Linked DNA regions of Homo sapiens. The protein of the gene in region 1 purifies or fractionates together with the protein of each later gene. This does not show direct contact. Each region holds a gene or a part of one and is shown on either strand. Other genes may lie near its edges.

Region 1 (3,815 bases):
TTGTGCCACTGCACTCCAGCCTGGGAGAGACAGAGCGAGACTCCATCTCAAAACAAAACAAAACAAAACTTCTGGAATAGCATTACTGTCATGTATTGTAAAGTACAGAAGCTTCACTAAAGTCACTCATTTTGACTTCTACGTAGTTGTTGGAGCAATTACACTAGAGTCAAGAACCCCAGTTAAAAGTAAACTCAATTTAAAATAACTTGGAAATATCCTCCTCTTAACCCTACCAGGGTGTCTGCAAGTAAACCTGAAACTACAGTGCATAGGTATTAGAAATGAGTATCTTTCTAGACGTTCAAATTGAAAACCAACCTTCATGTACAATATACTCAAATTCCAGTGAAAGAGCTAATGGAAGACTAGGGGTTTTACTTGCCTTCTTCTTAGTATCATCTTTTTGTTCCCTTATTAAATTTGCTTTAAAACCAAGGGGGTAACATCCTGGTTTTTTTTTTTTTTTTGAGATGGAGTCGCACTCTGTGGCCCAGGCTGGAGTGCAGTGGCGCCATCTCAGCTCACTGCAAGCTCCGCCTCCCAGGTTCACGCCATTCTCCTGCCTCAGCCTCCCGAGTAGCTGGGACTATGGGTGCCCGCCACCACGCATGGCCAATTTTTTTGTATTTTTTTAGTAGAGACGGGGTTTCACCGTGTTAGCCAGGATGGTCTCGATCTCCTGACCTCGTGATCTGCCCGCCTTGGCCTCCCAAAGTGCTGGGATTAAATTTTTTTTTTTTTTAATGTTGAACTAGGATATTTAAACAATCCCAGTGCTTTCTATCAGAATGTGAGCTCTCTGACGGGTGAGCCATAGTCCTACGTTGTGCTCCTTTTCTGCAAGAGCAGAGGTCCAAGAACAGGGCTAAAGACCTCAGTGGGAATGACTGTTCTTCATCACATTCTGGATTCACAGCCAAACAGGGTAGCTGTGCTGTCAACACACTTAACAAGGCAACTGGTCTTAACTTCCGGAACTATATCCAGGAGCCAGGCCATTGATAAAACAGTTCTTTAAAAATTCTTGCCTTTGGTTCAAAGTAGGGAGAAAAGGATAACTTCAGGAAGTTTTTTATAGCTTAAAATATTGAGTCTCAGAAAGTTATATATATTCATCTCAGCAGTCTGAACGCTTAGATGATCAATCTGCAAGTAATTGGAAATGTACAAAGAAGAAAAATTGCTGGGAAGTTTGTCCTGGTCCACACACCACCACCAAAATGTGACACAATTTTTTTTTTTTTGAGATGGAGTCTCACTCTGTCGACCAGGCTGGAGTGAAGTGACGTGATCTCAGCTCGCTGCAACCTCTGCCCCCTGGGTTTCAAGTGATTCTCCTGCCTCAGCCTCCCAAGTAGCTGGGATTACAGGCACACGTCCGGCTAATTTTTGTATTTTTAGTAGAGACAGGGTTTCGCCATGTTGGCCAGGCTGGTCTGGAACTCCTGACTTCACGTGATCCATCTGCCTCGGCCTCCCAAAGTGCTGGGATTACGGGCGTGAGCCACAGTGCCCAGCCAAAATGCGACACTTCTTCCCTGTCTAGCAGTGCAAGATCTTAAAGTCAGATTATAAAACAAGTTGTATTCTCACTTTATCATTTTTCTCTGCAGTTCTAGGGCAGGTTTATCTGAATTACTTAAGTCCTTCATAGTATAGTGAGCATAAAAGAGGACACAAGCCAAATGTATACTTAAATTAAATAGCATGATTTAATTTAGTTGGTGCTTAACCCTGAATCCTCTTAAGTTAAAAAAAAAGTTATAATTAACTATTAACGTTAATGAATTTAAACCTTCCAGAAAGCATGAATCCAAAAGGAAATGTCCAACAGGTGATATGAACCAGATATTTTATGGCCTTTCCTGTTTCAGTCTCAAACTTTCTAAACATCAATGGGGAAAAAAAATTCTCTAGAGTTTTTCAGTTTTATTCTTCTAGAGCACAATTTTCCGGCCTGTTACTGAGTACGGTCTTCTAACAGGTACACAATTAACTCATAAGTAGACAACACAATGGCAGTATTTGGGATCTGCCGGATAAGCTGGGCAAACAGTCCTCTATAAAAGGCAAGGTAGCCTTCTTCCCGGAACACCAGGCGCGCCGTCTGGACAAAAGACTTGTACTTGGTGCCCTCTTCCCGGAGCCTCGTCCTTATGACTTCTGCAGAGAGAGAAAGACCTACTTTACGCCACATATTAAATGGGGAACGAATCCACAGCACACAACTTTAAAACTGTCAAGGTTAGGCCGGGTGCGGTGGCTCACACCTGTAATCCCAGAACTTTGGGAGGCCGAGGCGGGTGGATCACTTGAGGCCAGGAGTTGGAGACCAGCCTGGCCAACATGGTGAAACCCCGTCTCTACTGAAAAACAAAAATTAGCCAGGCAAGGTGGTGCACGCCTACTACTAGAGTGGCTGAGGAATGAGGATCGCTTGAACCTGGGAGGTGAAGGTCGCAATGAGTCGGGATCGTGCCACTACACTCCAGCCTGGGCCACGGAGCAAGCAAGACTCTGTCTCAAAAAATAAATAAATAAAATAAAATTGTCAAGGTTACAACTGTGTCTATTTCCCACCTCAGCTGTATTTGGACAGGAAAGTCACATAACCTAGAGAGACAATGAAAAATTAAGTTCTTTTTAGAACCTTTTCCAACTCTAGGATTTGGTCAACTATGGACACTTACACATACACGAAAGTACAAAATAACTTTTTTTTTTTTTTTTTTGAGGCAGAGTCTCACTCTATTACTCAGGCTGGAGTGCAGTCGGTACGATCTTGGCTCACTGCAACCTCTGCCTTCTGGGTTCAAGTGATTCTCCTGCCTCAGCCTCCTGAGTAGCTGGGATTACAGGCACCTGCCACCACACCCAGCTAATTTTTGTATTTTTAGTAGAGACGGGGTTTCGCCATGTTGGCCAGCCTGGTTTCGAACTCCTAATCTCAGGTGATGTGCCCATCTTGGCCTCCCAAAGTGCTGGGATTACAGCAAAATAACTTTTAAGGGGTTAAAAAAAGCTTAGTTTCAATGAGACTTAATGTTAAAATAATTCATGGTTTTCTACTCCCAATTAAGCAAATGCTAATTTGTATGAAGTATGGCAATACCTTCAACGAATTCTTTTCTTATATTTTTCAGTTTCCTCCTCCTCCTGGAAACGTTTTCTACTCTGCCCAGCTCAAAAGCCACCCTCTCCTTTGCCAGCCTTTGCCCACCTGGGCCTCCTTCCCAGACACCTAGAGTTGGACATTCGTCACTCCTGCCCTCACACAGACCTCAGACCCTGGGAGGCATCACTGACCTCTTTCCTCAGATGTCCTCTGGGGTCAGCTTAGTGCTCCAGGACACAAAGGGGACTCAGCACCTGTTACTGAGTTGACTGTATGCATTTGCCATAGCTGACAGTACAGAAGGCTTATGAAAATAAAACCTGTTTTTCATGGCACAATAAACTAAGCATTTTTTAAAATAAGTAGGCCAGTAGGTCAAGAATTCTATAACTCAAAAAAATAAACTTACCCAAAGTAGCCTTAAGGCTCCATTAGAAATAGAGGCTGAATGATTATTATTATTATTATTATTATTATTATTTTTTTTTTTTTGAGACAGAGTCTCGCTCTGTTGCCAGGGTGGAGTGCAGTGGCTTGATCTCGGCTCACTGCAACCTCCACCTCCCGGGTTCAAGCGATTCTCCTGCCTCAGCTTCCCAAGTAGCTGGGACTACAGGCGTGCGCCACCACGCCCAGCTAATTTTTGTATTTTTAGTAGAGACGGGGTTTCACCATGTTGGCCAGGCTGGTCTCAATC
Region 2 (4,080 bases), on another chromosome or scaffold:
AGTATTAAAAAATACTCAAAATCCATATGTAAGGCAATGGAACAGGGGACTATGGCTGTATTTGTAATCATTTTTACTTCAAAGCCATCTGAAGCAAACGTAGAAAAATGCTAAGCTTAATAAAGCGGGATGATGGAAACATAGGTATGTAGTGGAGTTTGTCATGGTCTCATATGAAATGTGATATCCAGCCTTGAAAAAATTGTCACACAGAAGTCTAATCAAACCCAGGAGCTTGGCTATTGCTGCCTCTGGAAAAGGCTGGTAGATATCTTTAGTGCTGATGTAAAACTTCGTTCACAAACCACTGGAGAGATAGATGAAAATAATGAATAGGGCTGGGCGCCGTGGCTCACGCCTGCAAACCCAGCACTTTGGGAGGCCCAGGCGGGTAGAACACTTGAGCCCAGGAGTTCGAGACCAGCCTGACCAACATGGTGAAACCTCATCTCTACTAAAAAAATACAAAATTAGCTGTGTGTGCTGGCACATGCCTGTAATCCCAGCTACTTGGGAGGCTGAGGCAGGAGAATCACTTTAATTCAGGAGGCAGAGGTTGCAGTGAGCCGAGATCATGCCATCGCACTCCAGCCTGGGCAACAAAAATGAAACTCCATCTCAAAAAAAAAAAAAGAAGAAGAAGAAGAAAAAGAAAAAGGAAAAAAAAAGAAAATGATGAATAGATAGGTAGATTAATTTGTTAATTAAATAATATATCCAGGTAAGGTTTGAAACACAACCTTTATTACGTATGATGTTTACATGTTAGACTGAGTGCTGGTCCCTCATCTGCTTCATACCTTGGGCAGCCTGTCTGCTACTATCTCCATGGCTCTTTCTTCTCCCTGGAAGTGAAGAAAACAATTGAGGCAGAAGAGGAAGAGGCAAGAAACAATACAAGCATTGCTAGTCAGTTACCCTTCACCTTTGTTTTGAAGCTCAGAGTCATGCAACCCACAGTGAGTTCATTTCCAGATCAAATGCAGCAAAATGAAGGTTCTGAAACATTTCCAGTTCTCTTGGTGTCTCATCAGGATGATGTTGTTACCTCTCCAAATTCCCCTTTTCCCCAAGGGCTATATCTATGGGCTCAGGTGGGATCCCAGCTCAGGCCAAAGGCTCTCAGACTCCACACCTCTGATCTTGCTGGCATCCTGTCCTTTCAGGCCAATCCTGGCCCTTGAGGTTACACTGAGCTTCCGCTGCCTAGAAGAGCTGCAGCACCTCCTCTTAGAATTGAGGACAATCATGCAGACATTGAGAAAGTTCCCAGTCAATGCTCTTCACCTTGTCATCTAAGCAAATGGAGGACAATTCCCCCAGAAGCACCAGGTGCACGATAAGTTGATGTGGCTGCAGAGCCACCAGGTGACCCAGTGCATCCCTGCAGCTCCTTCCCTTGGATTCCTCTGGGCCCTCACAACACAGCCTCAGAAAACTGCAAGTCTCACTCCTTACCTCTTGCAAGAGAAGGCCACACCATCTTCCAGTATCTTCTGGCCCATAAGTCTCAGCTGCTGTGTGAAAATCAAACCAAAGAAAGACACTTCTTAGTTAATGCGACTTTTGAAATTCTCAGAATTTCCTGCAGGAGCTGGAAAGGTCAAGACAAATCCTGACTTACAATCGAGACTTTATTAGATGCCTAGGCAAGAAGCAGGGATCCCAGTTATGTCCCCCTCCATTGTTCCCTGAGCCAATAAAGCCCCCAAATCTTCCTTACAGAGACCTAAGCCTGAACTGGGGAGACAGTACTGGCTCGGGGAAGCCATTGCTCCCTCAGCAGACCCACAACCCAGGCTTTGCTCACTTCCTGTCCTTTGGAGAATGAAACACACAGCCTGGACATTGGCTCCAGGATCTCCTCAGGCCAAGGTCTTCTTCTGTGGGCTGCCCCTCCTCCTCCTTTGCTTCTGGTTTCTCTTCCTCCTCCTTCTCATTTCCATTTTCCTCCTCCTGCTCATCTTGGGTGCTCTCTGATTCCATGTTGCCTGTCAGCTGAGCCATGGTGAGATGAAAGACGTGGCAGCTGAAGCCCTCTCTGATCCCAAACTGCACATGCTCCTGGAGGGCTTCCATGGTGGTGAACACCCGGCAGCAGGCCATGCACCTGAAGCCGTTCTCCATGGTCACCAGCCAGTCAGGAGTCTTGGCTCTGGGTGTGTCCTCAACGGTGGGTGAGCCTGGCAGGCTGTCTGATTCTGTCCTTTCCTCATGCTCTTTCTCCTCCCCACTGGGCTCACTGTCAGACAGGAGGTTTCTGGTGGACACATCAGAGGGGGGAGTACCTACCCTCACAACCTCAGAAAGGGTCACTTCTTCCATCCTTGGCTGCTTTTCTAAGGACTCCAAAGTTTCCTCTGTCTCCCAGGAGACAGCCACACCTTTGTTCATTTGTACCTGCATGTAGTATATTTTCATGCCCCTTTCCTCTTTGTTTACACACAGAGAGGACACACAAGTCTTATAGGATGAATAGGACGACAAGGAGACATGTTGTGAGCGGGGAGGAGTCTCTCCTCGTTCCTGAACCTGGGCCAGGGGTGATTGAGGCTGGGGGCTGTCTCGATGTATTCTCTGGATTCCTGGGAAAGGAAATTAGAAACATGAGCAGATGCATGGGCCATGCTAGGAGCTGAGGGAACGTAAGTTAAATATGTGTGGTGCAGGAGACAGGGACTGTGGTGAGATGCAGCTGTGTAGTGAGCTTGGTATTTGTTGTTCATATTGTGGGGTAGTGATTCTAGTGTCATTTGCGTGTAGGGATGTTGGTGGGGTGTCCATATACAGGGGTGTGGAGTATGGTGGTGAGGACTGCAGCATATGTGGAATGTCGGCAGCATGTGTGTGCTATGAGGATGTGAGTTGGTGCCATCATTGATGTGTTATTTGTGGAATGTGGGAGGTAGTGTGGGAGAATGGCACTGCAGGTCATGCATTTGGGTGGTGTGTGTGCAGAAAGTGTACCTGTGGAGCGTGTGGCTGTATGTGTGAGGTGTGTGGGCCTGAGCTAGAGTCCCGCTGCAGTGCTGGAGGCCTGGGCTGAGGAAATCTGTCTTTCTCTGGAAGGCAAAGGCAGAGCCCAAATAGTTCCGATGAAAGTGCTTAATCTGGTCCTGTGGCCCTACACCCCAACAGCAGACTTTTCTGGCCTCTGCTCCCTGACTGCCTGACTGCACACCAGGGCTCATGCTCTCCTACACTGAGCTTATATCCATGCTCTTCTAACAGCTCTGTCATCTTGCCCAGACACCTCTGCAGAGCTCTGATCATATCCAACTGCCCTGGGTTTCTTCTTAGCCTCATCCTTGGATCTATGGGCCTCCTGCCCCCTACCCAAGGAGCCCTGCACCCAATCCCATGCCTAAGGAGTCCAGCACCCAAAGAGTCACATACCCATAGCGCCCTGCATCCAGAGTCTCATGCTCAAGGAACCTCACACCCAGAGAATGTCACATCCAAGGAGCCCCACACCCAAAGACTGTCACACCGAAGGAGCCCCAAACCCAAAAAGCCCCACTCCCAAAGAGTCTTACACCCAAGCAGCACTGCAACCAAAGAGTCTCATGCCCACAGAGCCCCACACTCAAATATTTTCATGCCCAATGAACCCCACAGCCAAGGAGCCACGTGCCGAAGGAACCCTGCACCCTTACCACTGTGGATGAGCTTGCGTGAAGAAGAAACGCAGGAGCAGTATTCGGAGGTAGAAGTAACTTCTCCCACCCCTTGGCTCCAGCCTTTGGCCACTCTAGTGGATCCAGGCTGCAGGGCATCCTCTTGGGACTTTGACATTCCTGAGAAAGGTATGAAGGGAACAGAGATATGATGGATGGGTAATGTTTGTGCATCATTTACCATCCAACAAATATTTACTGAGTGGCTGACCTATGTCAGGTGTAGTGAACACACATGGTTTGTGAGACAGGCTTCTGGTGGATACTCCAGTATTTAATTACAGTCAACAGGTATTTTGATAGTGTATCAATAGGAACATAGGCCTGTGTGGTGACTATGAGTACGTCTGAAGCGTAAGAGTGATACATACCAGATAGCCTTTGATATGTGTAGATTTGTGTG

Evidence for each region.
Region 2: the proteins of SLC25A33 (region 1) and FAM170A purify together in Homo sapiens (co-immunoprecipitation; one large-scale study listed by IntAct). This does not show direct contact.

The regions. Positions count from the first base shown.
Region 1 is NC_000001.11:9,580,650-9,584,464, reverse strand, and holds part of SLC25A33 (solute carrier family 25 member 33), read right to left. Parts: intron 2,167-3,815; coding exon 1,964-2,166; 3' UTR 1-1,963. UniProt on the Homo sapiens protein: Mitochondrial transporter that imports/exports pyrimidine nucleotides into and from mitochondria. Selectively transports uridine, thymidine, guanosine, cytosine and inosine (deoxy)nucleoside di- and triphosphates by an antiport mechanism.
Region 2 is NC_000005.10:119,632,465-119,636,544, reverse strand, and holds the end of FAM170A (protein FAM170A), read right to left. Parts: intron 3,798-4,080; coding exon 3,657-3,797; intron 2,586-3,656; coding exon 1,811-2,585; intron 1,518-1,810; coding exon 1,511-1,517; 3' UTR 1,459-1,510; intron 846-1,458; 3' UTR 723-845; downstream 1-722. UniProt on the Homo sapiens protein: Acts as a nuclear transcription factor that positively regulates the expression of heat shock genes. Binds to heat shock promoter elements (HSE).